Homo sapiens: one gene and its partners. The protein of the gene in region 1 interacts with the protein of each later gene in a pairwise test. Each region holds a gene or a part of one and is shown in the gene's direction. Other genes may lie near its edges. The genes, in order: TMEM106C, TMEM11 and PLPP6.

The links.
Region 2: the proteins of TMEM106C (region 1) and TMEM11 interact in binary tests that used the Homo sapiens proteins (3 or more experiments, as listed by UniProt).
Region 3: the proteins of TMEM106C (region 1) and PLPP6 interact in binary tests that used the Homo sapiens proteins (3 or more experiments, as listed by UniProt).

What each region holds. Positions count from the first base shown.
Region 1 is NC_000012.12:47,962,029-47,965,776, forward strand, and holds the start of TMEM106C (transmembrane protein 106C), read left to right. Parts: upstream 1-1,567; 5' UTR 1,568-1,676; intron 1,677-1,769; exon of another isoform or gene 1,770-1,941; intron 1,942-2,180; 5' UTR 2,181-2,208; coding exon 2,209-2,395; intron 2,396-3,253; coding exon 3,254-3,317; intron 3,318-3,748.
Region 2 is NC_000017.11:21,212,652-21,216,399, reverse strand, and holds the start of TMEM11 (transmembrane protein 11, mitochondrial), read left to right. Parts: upstream 1-2,238; 5' UTR 2,239-2,247; coding exon 2,248-2,309; intron 2,310-3,748. UniProt on the Homo sapiens protein: Plays a role in mitochondrial morphogenesis.
Region 3 is NC_000009.12:4,660,215-4,663,962, forward strand, and holds the start of PLPP6 (polyisoprenoid diphosphate/phosphate phosphohydrolase PLPP6), read left to right. Parts: upstream 1-2,079; 5' UTR 2,080-2,161; coding exon 2,162-3,049; 3' UTR 3,050-3,748. Other genes in the region: SPATA6L (spermatogenesis associated 6-like protein), read right to left, coding at 1,685-1,822. UniProt on the Homo sapiens protein: Magnesium-independent polyisoprenoid diphosphatase that catalyzes the sequential dephosphorylation of presqualene, farnesyl, geranyl and geranylgeranyl diphosphates.

The sequences.
Region 1 (3,748 bases):
AAAAATACAAAAATTAGCCAGGTGTGGAGGTGTGCGCCTGTAATCCCAGCTACTTGTGAGGCTGAGGCAGGAGAATCGCTTGAACCCGGGAGGCGGAGGTTGCAGTGAGCTGAGACTGTGCCACTGTACTCCAGCCTGGTCGACAGAGCAAGACTCCATCTCAAAACAAACGAACAAACAAACAAACGAACGAAAAGTGCTTTCTAACCTCTTACGTACGTGCCTTTTTTGTGGAGGTCTGGGGAAGGGGGGGCCCTACTACCGAATGAATCTACTCCTTGGTGCCTCTTGGCACCTAATTGGCTTGCAAAGCTCAGCTGTGGGGTCCGTTCCTGCGAGAAGCCAGCAGGACTCCCCATGGAAGGTTTCCCCCAGGCTGGGCCCCTCTGACTTGTGAGACTTCCAGCAGCACTTTTATCTACAGTATTGGAGGGGTCTGATGAAGCCTCTGGGTTCCCCTCCTGGACTGAAGACAGGTTCTGATATAATTGCCGGACGGGTTCTCCTTGCCCGTTGCCCAGAGCTGATTCATCAAGACAGGGGAATTGCAATGGAGATTTTAATTCATGCAGAGCCGGCTGAATGAGATACCAGAGTTTTATCACTCAAATAAGTCTCCCCGATAATTCAGAGACTGGGGTTTTTTAAGGATAATTCGGCTGGTAGGTATCAGGCAGTGGGGAGTGCTGATTGGTCAGGTTGGAGATGAAATCATAGGGGGGTCTAAGTGGGTTCTTCTTGCTGTTTTCTGTTCCTGGGTGGGATTGCAGAACTGGCTGAGCCAGATAACTGGTCTAGGTACTGCCAGCTGGTGCCTCAGAATGCAGGGTCTGAAAAATATCCCCAGCACCGATCTTAGATTTTACAATAGTGATGTTATCCCTTGGAGCAATAGGGAAGGTTTGGAATCTTGTGACCTCTGTCTGGATGACTCCTAAACCATAATTTCTAATCTTGTGGCTAATTTGTTAGTCTTACAAAGGCAGTCTGGTCCCCAGGCAAGAAGGGGGTTTGTTTTGGGGAAGGGCTGTTATCTTTGCTTCGAAGTTCAACTATAAACTAAATTCCTCCCAAAGTTAGTTTGGCCTATACCCAGGAATGAACAAGGGCAGTTCGGAGGTTAGAAGCAAGACGGAACTGGGTAAGTCAGATCTCTTTCACTGTCATAATTTTCTCACTTACAATTTTTGCAAAGGCAGTTTATCCGAATGCTCCGCATGTGTGTACCCTCAGCGACTACACAGCTCCTGTACTATAAAGAATATTTCAGAATGGCTTCGGTAGCCGGCAGCACCTTCCTCCTCTCGCAGCAGAGAAGTGTTTTGCTCTGGAAACTTGACTGGAGCCTTTCCCAGCCTATCTAGCGAACAGCAGAGCATCATCCCGACTCCGCGGACTACCGCGGCCCAACAGCAAGGGTCGCGGCTCCCCGGCGCTCTCTGCCGCCCTCTACCGGAACCGAGGGAGCCAGACAGCTGCGATATTGGGAAGGCCTCCGGAGCCGCGAAGAGCGCACGCGCGAGCGCGCGCCCGCGTTCTCCTGGCGGGCTTGGTATTTGGCGCCTGCGCGCTGAGTGCGTGCCGCTCCGCCGACCGAAGAGGCTGGTAAGTCCTCAAGCTGGCAGGTGGTCGGGGGAGCGGCCGGAGAGGAGCTGCCGGGAGTTCGTGCCCTGCAGGTCTGCGACGCTGGCGTTCGCTCCTGCCTGGGCCACTTTGGTGGGCTCAGAGCATCGCTTTTTGCCAAGGGGCGTGACCTGAGCCCGCCTCCTGGGGCTGGGGGGTGGAGAGGAATGGGAATCGTTAAGGCCGGTTATCAATTTGGTGCCTGTTTGTTGCTCGAGGAGGGGCATAGAGCTTACAAATAGTGAAGAGGAAGGGGCGAGGCTGGACCAGGTGGGAGCGGGGGTGCCCCAAGTCCCAGGGCGGTGAGGATCGAGGCAGGTGCGTGAAAGGCAGGCCCCGTTCCCCCTCCCCACCCCCGCCGGCTGTGTGTGGCGGGTAAGAGGAGAGTGGGTAGCACTACTACAAAATGAGGGTCCCGATAGAAATCGTACAGGTGTTGGGACCACACTCAGGGCGGCAACTTGTCATTTTTGCGTTTTTAATTTTCTTATAGAAACAAGCGATTTCTGTCGTGATTCACTGGGGCCGCTAACGTGCACTCCCTCTTTTCATCTTAGGACATGACACCAGTGGCATATCACGGCCATGGGGTCTCAGCATTCCGCTGCTGCTCGCCCCTCCTCCTGCAGGCGAAAGCAAGAAGATGACAGGGACGGTTTGCTGGCTGAACGAGAGCAGGAAGAAGCCATTGCTCAGTTCCCATATGTGGAATTCACCGGGAGAGATAGCATCACCTGTCTCACGTGCCAGGGGACAGGCTACATTCCAACAGGTGATCATGGAGGGATGATTCCCTGATGAGAATCCCAAGGTACCCTCGGAGTTCTCCTGTCTGCCCAGACAACTTTTCTTCTAGGCAGTAATACCATAATAGAGACAGTGCCCTGGACAGGAGCCAGCTCAACTGACTTAATACACTTGGGCAGTTCTGCAACTTCTCTTCCTCTCCTTATTTTTCCAACCCTTTCTTTTCTTTACCGCCACTCTTGTTCTTTTCCTGAGGTTTGGAACATTCAGTTCGCTCTGTGTTGTGGGATTTGTTGACAGGCACATTTCTTTATCGCTGTCACAAGGATTGGGACAGCTTTGCGGGGGAACCATCTTGGAAGCTGCTTTTCAAGGAAATGGGTAGCTAATCCTTAACAGCCTAAGGTCAGAAAAATATATCAGGTCAAGAGAGAGAGACAAATACTTAGCCTTGGTACAGGATCATCTATTACTATTAACAAATTGGCCCTCAGAAAGTCTTTAACAGTTTAGCTGGAGAGTCACAGAAATTTAGAGCTGGTTAGGACCTTCAAAATCATTTACTCCAAAGCTTCCATATGAAAGGCAAGGAAACCATGGCCTTGAGAGATTCGACGACTCTGCCAAGCCCATGCAGTAAAGCCAGAACAGGATCCCAGGTTTTTCAACTTCCACATCACTACCCTGGCAGCACTGATAGATGTTTTATAATTTGTGGCACTCTCTTGTTTCTTGTTCATTAGACCCAACATGTGAATTTCACTAGTATTTTTTAAAATGTCTCATTCCAGAAGAATATTTGTTGTGGCAGGCTCAAGTGAGACGTGAAGGAAGTACTGCCAACACATGGGATTTACAAAATAATTGTTTGGCTCTTTTCTAGAGCAAGTAAATGAGTTGGTGGCTTTGATCCCACACAGTGATCAGAGATTGCGCCCTCAGCGAACGTGAGTTACCTGCTTCTCACCTGTTAATACCTACTTCTGTCCCTAATCTCTTTCTGTATGTATGAATGCCAGTTAATTCTTTGAAAACTACACATGTTCTTATAAGTTCCCCATTTTCCTTATAACTGTTTGCCCAAGCAAGATATCTCTGCCCCCATCACAATCTGGGGAAAGAAACTTGAAGCTGGAAATGCTTTGAAGGTCAAGGAATGGAATCAGAAGAAACTGGGAAAGTGGAGTGTTCTGGGAGGTGTGGGACTGTCTCTGTCCACATAGCTCCTTTCTTCAGCTTTTCTTCCCAGAGTGCAAACAGTGTTTAAAGGAGTTTTAAAAGGTTTCTCCTGCTTCACTGCTTCTTAACTGGTTTATGGTTCCTGGCTCTTGGAACTTCCCTTTCAGCTCCCTTCTCTTTCCTGGTTTTGTGTTTAATC
Region 2 (3,748 bases), on another chromosome or scaffold:
GGCGTGAGCTAACGCACCTGGCCAACAGTATCACTTTTATACAGTTGTTGTGAAAATCAAGATGTAGATCACTTAAAATATAAAACAGCACTTGGCCTCCATACACGTATCACCTCATGAAATACCGCAATCCTCTGAGGGGAGATACTATCATCCCATGATACAAACCAGGCAGCTGAGAAACAGAAGTTACACAAGCAGCCCCTGAGCCAGAAGTGCGTTCTAGAATCCCTAGTATACCCTCTGAATCACCACACTGATACAAAGAAAAGACAGCCATATCCGCAGTGTCATACCATGGAACTGTTAAGAGGTCTCCAGCATGAACTACGCTGACACTTGGAGGCAGGGCTGTATGACTCAACAGGAAGGCCAGGTACTTTTTAGAGACCAGACAGGTACAAGGTCTTGAAGGACAAAAGTTGGCTGGGAGAGCTGGGCACCGTGGCTCATGCCTGTAAATCCCAGCACTTTGGGAGGCTGAGGGGGATGGATCATGAGGTCAGGAGTTGGACACCAGCCTGACCAACATGGTGAAACCCCGTCTCTACTAAAAATACAAAAATTAGCTGGGTGTGGTGGCACCACCTGTAATCCCAGGTACTCAGGAGGCTGAGGTAGGAGAATTGCTTGAACCTGGGAGGCGGAGGTTGCAGTGAGCCAAGATCGCACCACTGCACTCAAGCCTGGGCGACAGAGCAAGACTCTGTCTCAAAAAAAAAAAAAAAAGTTGGCTGGGAGGTAAAAGCATTTTAGGTAAAGCATAGAACATCTACGTATCTGCAAACCCTCTGAATTTACTAGCCTGGCAAGTTCCAGACGGGAAAGGTAGGCAGTTGAATTTGGAGAGCTAGGCAACTTCCAAACTAAGGAGGGGCTTCTTGATTGTGCTAAGGAATTTGAATCACACACTGTAGGTGATGAGGGACGGTGAGAGGATTGCAAGCAGCTAAAACTGTGGTAGAATGTCAGCTGGAAGGAAATCGAAAGGAATCCTCAACAAGGAGAGGGTCGCCTTTCCGTCTGCTGGCCCTCCTGCTGTGGCCTGCGGCGGGGTGGGAAGGGGGGTTCCACTACACAGAAGTGTGACGCGCAGGGCTGGGCTTCTTCTAGGCTGAATTCGGGACAGATTTTCGCATTTGTTTTGCTCAAGTATTTATGGGACCAATTAATATGTTTAGCAACGTTGTCTGTGGGAGCAGTAGAGGAACTGAGAAGTTCACAAACTGTAAGAGATCCTCCAAAGAGTCCACAGGTCTGAGGCAGCAGCACCTGGGAATCTCTGGGCTCCAGTTAGTCCTTCCTGACTTTGACTCGTTACAGCAGTGTCCAGACAGGGATATGTCGGGTCCTGTGGCAGGGTTCCCGTCAGGTGGGATGGTTTAGCCCCGCATCTGCCTTCAAAGATCCCGAGATTATGCCGTCGCAGCGGCCAGGGCAGGAGTGGGTGCGTGGCAGGGACTGAGTCTAAGAGGCCTGGAGGCCCTGTCTAAAACAGAGCTGTCGCTGGGCCCTCTCGCCTTCAAGCAGTTATCATACAGCTATTCCCCTTTCTTGTTTTCAGACCCTCTCCTCTAACAGCCTGCACCTGCAAGCAGGGACCTCCGTGGCAGCAGGGACAGCGTGTCTGTCTCGGCCTCCAAAGTACCCCGGAGTCTAAGAGAACTGGGGGAGGATGGTGCGGGAGCAGCGCCCGCCTCCAAGGAGGGCCCGGGCGGCGCCTCCCGCCCCTCGGTGACCTTATGGGCCAAGGCTGTGAAGGGCAGGCGTGGCGACGCGGAGGGGCCCGGCGCTAGTAGCCCGCAGACAGCGCGGCGGCCCCCAGCGGGAGAGGCAGCCTGGCGGCCAGGACAGCGCGGCCGGGCGCCTCCGCGCAGTGCTCTGGGAGTTGTAGGCACTTGCCTCTCCTCTCTCCTTCAGCTACTGGCTCTCGAAACTCAAGGACCTACCGGTGGGTGGGCGCCTGTGACTCCCAGGCTGCGAACGCCGGGAACTCAGTTTCTTCAGAAATGCTCGAACCAGGACGGCTCCTGGAGTCCTCGCGCCCTCGCAGAAGGACTACGGGCCCCGGCGACCCCGGGGGCGGGGCTTCCGGCGCGCTGCCTTGTGGGCACGGTAGTTCCGCCGGGTCTGGCTTCCGCCTGCCGAGCGGCCCCGGACCGCAGGCCGGACTACACTTCCCGTCGGCCCGCCTGCTCTCCCGATGCCGCCTTGGCGCGAGACGTTGGCAAGCAGAGTGTCTCCAAGATGGCCGCTTGGGGAAGGAGGCGTCTTGGCCCGGGCAGCAGTGGCGGCAGCGCCCGAGAGAGGTGAGATCCAAGGGCTTGTTGCCCCCAGTGCAGGCGGCTCAGCGGCCGGAGAGCCCAGCGCGGCCTCCGAGGGCTGCAGCAGCCTTCCTTCCCTGGTTTCCCCGCGCTCCCCCTACCCTCGCCGGGCATACTGGGTTCCAGTTCCGGAGGATCCGGGATCCGGGTGGGAGCGAGGTCGAAGGCCTCGGCGGAGAGCTTAGGGGAAGGGGCGTTAGCCGGGCTGAGTAAGGTAGGCAGCGGCCATGCGGGGCGGGGCCCGAGGCCGGGCCGTGCTGAAAGGAACTGGCGCCCAGCGCAGGCCTCAGGGACCCGCCTAGCTGCCCGCGGGCCGATCGGCTGCTGAAGCACCCTTCCCGCCTGGGCACGCGCGTGGCCATCTCGGCCGCGGCCCCAGACGTGTAGAGGAAGGCAGGGCCCCCGGAGAGAGAAAGAAGGGGAAGCCTTCACAGAGCAGGCCGGCCGCGGCAGGGGTAGTTTGATCTGCACGTTTACTAGGGAGCTTTAGCTCCCGCCAGATGTGTCTCTTCCGAGCCCAGAGCCGGCCACTTCCTCGAGGGAAGATTCTGAAGACTTTTGGATGGTTCTGTGCAAGCGCTCCTGCCGTAGAAGTCCTTTAAAGTGACCTTTCCTAATGAATGGTGTGTGGGCAGGGAGCTAGGAGCGTGTTTCTTCCAACAGGGACCTCCATTTGAATAACTGATTTCTAGAAGATGAGATTGGAGTAGTTTCCGTGTTTCATGTTCAAGTTGCAGTTTTTGCATCTGGGAAGCAGTTTCAGCTAGTGGAAACCACTAGAAGCTGTTCAGCCACTAGAAATTTGGGAGAAGATGTATTGGTGGAGCCACCTGGATTAACTGTCCGCTAAAGCTTGATTGTTATAGCAGCGGTCAGCAAAAAAGGAAAAGTTTTTGTTTTGCTGGTTCTCCCCCTCCCCGTCTTTTTGGTGAGGATTGTCTAACAGAAAAGTTATCTTCCTCTCAACTACTCTGCATTATTCCTTTTCTGTGACTGATTCCATCCCGTGTTCATTGCTATTGCTTGCAGATGGCTTTCCCAGCTGGGAAGATTCTTCCTGTTTGGCAGTTGTGATAGAATCCTTTAGCTTGCTTGCACTTTATTCTTTAGCCCAGTTATCCAGCGTTGCCCATTCTGCATTTCCTCTTCCTTGGAAAAGCAGTGGTAAACACACTTTTGTTTTTCTAACTCCCGCCTGGTATTAGATTGGACCATTTAAATAAGTTACCTCAATGGTTTTCAGATGCTCTTAAAAACTAGCAAACATTTTCAAGATATTCAATGCAAACAGTAATACGAAATAACCTGTTTAGAAAACAAAGTATTAGAAACATACGCCCTCTTGTTGGACTAAAAGCATCTGAAAAGAGCCGAATAGGGATGCCTCAGGCAGGGAACAGGAGCCTTGCCAGCACAGGTTAAGC
Region 3 (3,748 bases), on another chromosome or scaffold:
AAAGAAACTACCATTAGAGTGAACAGGCAACCTACAGAAAGGGAGGAAATTTTTGCAATCTACTCATCTGACAAAAGGGTTAATATCCAGAATCTACAAAGAACTTAAACAAATTTACAAGAAAAAATCAAAAAACCCCATCAAAAAGTGGGTGAAGGACATGAACAGACACTTCTCAAAAGAAGACATTTACACAGCCAACAGACACATGAAAAAATACTCATCATCACTGGTCATCAGAGAAATACAAATCAAAACCACAATGAGATACCATCTCACACAGTTAGAATGGCGATCATTAAAAAGTCAGGAAACAACAGGTGCTGGAGAGAATGTGGAGAAACAGGAACACCTTTACACTGTTGGTGGGACAGTAAACTAGTTCAACCCATGTGGAAGACAGTGTGGTGATTCCTCAAGGATCTAGAACTAGAAATACCATTTGACCCAGCCATCCCATTACTGGGTATATACCCAAAGGATTATAAATCATGCTACTATAAAGACACATGCACACGTATGTTTATTGCAGCACTATTCACAATAGCAAAGACTTGGAACCAACCCAAATGTCCATCAGTGATAGACTGGATTAAGAAAATGTGGCACATATACACCGTGGAATACTATGCAGCCATAAAAAAGGATGAGTTCGTGTCCTTTGTAGGGACATGGATGAAGCTGGAAACCATCATTCTCAGCAAACTATCACAAGGACAGAAAACCAAACACCGCATGTTCTCACTGATAGGTGGGAATTGAACAATGACAACACTTGGACACAGGGTGGGGAACATCACACACAGGGGCCTGTCGTGGGGTGGGGGGAATGAGTTAATGGGTGCAGCACACCAACATGGCACATGTATACATATATAACAAACCAGCACGTTGTGCATATGTACCCTAGAACTTAAAGTATAATTTTTTTAAAAAAATGTGACATGCTCTACTCTGTAGCCTTCCTTCTCCCCAGATCTCCCTCAATGACATTGTTTGGGGCAAAATCATTAGACTTATTAAGGTTAAAATTGATTCCATCTCCAAATTCCAAAACAAAAATGTTAAGAGATTGTCAGTGATGACATAGTAATAACATCAATATTCTATGAATAGTTTAGTGTGAAGAAGGCTGGTAATGTTTTGACTATTTATATCACCATGTTATTCACCAGAATGGAATCTAGCCTTTATCACTGTAGCTAAATAATCTAGGTATGATCTGAGGAAACAGTAAATCTGAACAGCCTTTTTGTTACAGGATTTTAGTTACAGGATTTAACTAATTTCATTATTTTTTTTTCGCTATTTTTCTTGGTCTAACACAGTTTTTTCTAAGGTCCACAGTTTATTAATAATCCCTTTCGTAAATGTAATGCAATTACCTCTAACACCTCCAAAAACATTCAGAAATGCTCTCTTTGCTCCAGTTAAAAAAATGCCATGGGAGTTCCAAGAATAGGAAACATCAACCAGGGTATTTAGCACTAGATTGACAGAACTTGGCTCAGACCTGCATTACAAAAGCAAGTGTTCCGACTGCGGTTTTGCATTGTGCTGAAGTGCTTTCGGATAATTTTTTTAAAAATGAAATTTACCAAATAATGCTGTAAGAACTCTGTTCTTTATAAGAACTCTCAGGTTATCTTCAGACAACAAAAGCCAATGAGAAAGTCAAGATCACCTTTTCAAATCTCATGCTCTCCTGAATCATAATGGGGAACGCAGAGGGAAAGCTGTTGGTCTCCAGGTACTGATTCATGAGGTAGACCCCGAGGTACACATCTTGTTTGCCAGGCAGGAACACTCCTGGGCAAGAAATCTTAAAAAGAAAGAAAACAACAAACAAGGGAGAGAAAACAGACTTTGCTTTGTTTTGTTACACGGGGCTCTATTTCTCTTAAGCTCCTACAGACACTGACATTTTCCCCATCACCTCACTCCCTCACCTGTACCTCCCAACGCCAACATCCTCCCCTCTGCTCTCCTCACATTGGAAATTCCAACTCCCTCCCACGTCTCCACCAGGTGTCACAATCGCGCTCTCGCCGGCTCCTCTCCCCGCCCCTCCGGGATGGTAGTGCGGAAGCGGAAGAGGCTGCAGGGCCGGGAAGCCTCTGTTTGGTCCGGCCAGGTCCCGGGATCCGGGCCGCCAGCTGCGATGCCAAGTCCCCGGAGGAGCATGGAGGGACGGCCGCTGGGCGTCTCCGCTTCGAGCAGCAGCAGCAGCCCCGGCAGCCCAGCCCATGGCGGCGGTGGCGGCGGCAGCAGGTTTGAGTTCCAGTCCCTGCTCAGCAGCCGCGCCACGGCCGTGGACCCCACCTGCGCCCGGCTCCGTGCATCGGAGAGCCCAGTTCACCGCCGCGGCTCCTTCCCCCTGGCCGCGGCGGGCCCCTCGCAGTCGCCCGCGCCTCCGCTGCCCGAGGAGGACCGCATGGACTTGAACCCGTCCTTCCTGGGCATCGCCCTGCGCTCCCTGCTGGCCATCGACCTGTGGCTGTCCAAGAAGCTGGGGGTGTGCGCGGGAGAGAGCTCGTCGTGGGGCAGCGTGCGACCCCTTATGAAGCTGCTGGAGATCTCGGGACACGGCATCCCCTGGCTGCTGGGCACCCTCTACTGCCTGTGCAGGAGCGACAGCTGGGCCGGGCGCGAGGTGCTGATGAACCTGCTCTTCGCCCTGCTGTTGGACCTGCTGCTGGTGGCCTTGATCAAAGGGCTGGTCCGCAGGCGCCGCCCGGCCCACAACCAGATGGACATGTTTGTCACTCTCTCGGTGGACAAGTACTCCTTCCCCTCGGGCCATGCCACAAGGGCCGCCCTGATGTCGAGGTTCATCCTGAACCACCTGGTGCTGGCCATTCCACTGAGGGTGCTGGTGGTTCTGTGGGCCTTCGTCTTGGGCCTATCCAGGGTCATGCTGGGGCGGCACAATGTCACCGACGTAGCTTTTGGCTTTTTTCTGGGCTACATGCAGTACAGCATCGTGGACTATTGCTGGCTCTCACCCCATAATGCTCCGGTCCTCTTTTTACTGTGGAGTCAACGATGACACCATCTCATTGATTATGGCACCAGGAAGTCTGAAGGTTTCCACATTCGATGATGTCAACCTAAACCAGCAGCCATCCCGCTTGTCCCTCTTAGGCATTTCAGGCTTCCTTTGGGATTTCAGGTGTCCCATGATCTTGATGTGCTGCTAGGCTGGAGCACACACTGGCCATTACTGAACACAGCCATATTAGGGAAAGCAAAAAAACCCAAAAAATCCTCTATTGTATATTTATTCAACAACTGTTTATGTTTCCAGGACAACTGCAAAGAAAACAAGCTGAGGTGGTTATACTGTTGCTGTTAAAAGTTGGTATCAGTAAGATTTGTGTTTTGTGATAATCCCTAAATCAACATACCACTTGTAAACTGAACTTCGAGAAAGAAACATGATGTTCATTCTGTAAATATACATGCAGACAGGTCATGTACTAATCCTAGTCCTTTTCCTGAGGTAGATTTTAAACAGTATTTTTAAAGTCCAAGACATAGGTTTTTCTAGTTTATTCCCTGAAGATCTGTTGCCACAGTTGGGAGATTTCTTCTTAATCCTGATTTTCTTGGTAAGCTTTTTTACTTTATTATCTCTATAATTTATTATCTCTATCCATATTTGTGGATCGGGTAGTGGGAAAAGAGATTATAATACTTGTCTTTCTCTCCTCTCCCTCCATCCCTCAAAAGATCTTTATGCATTTCC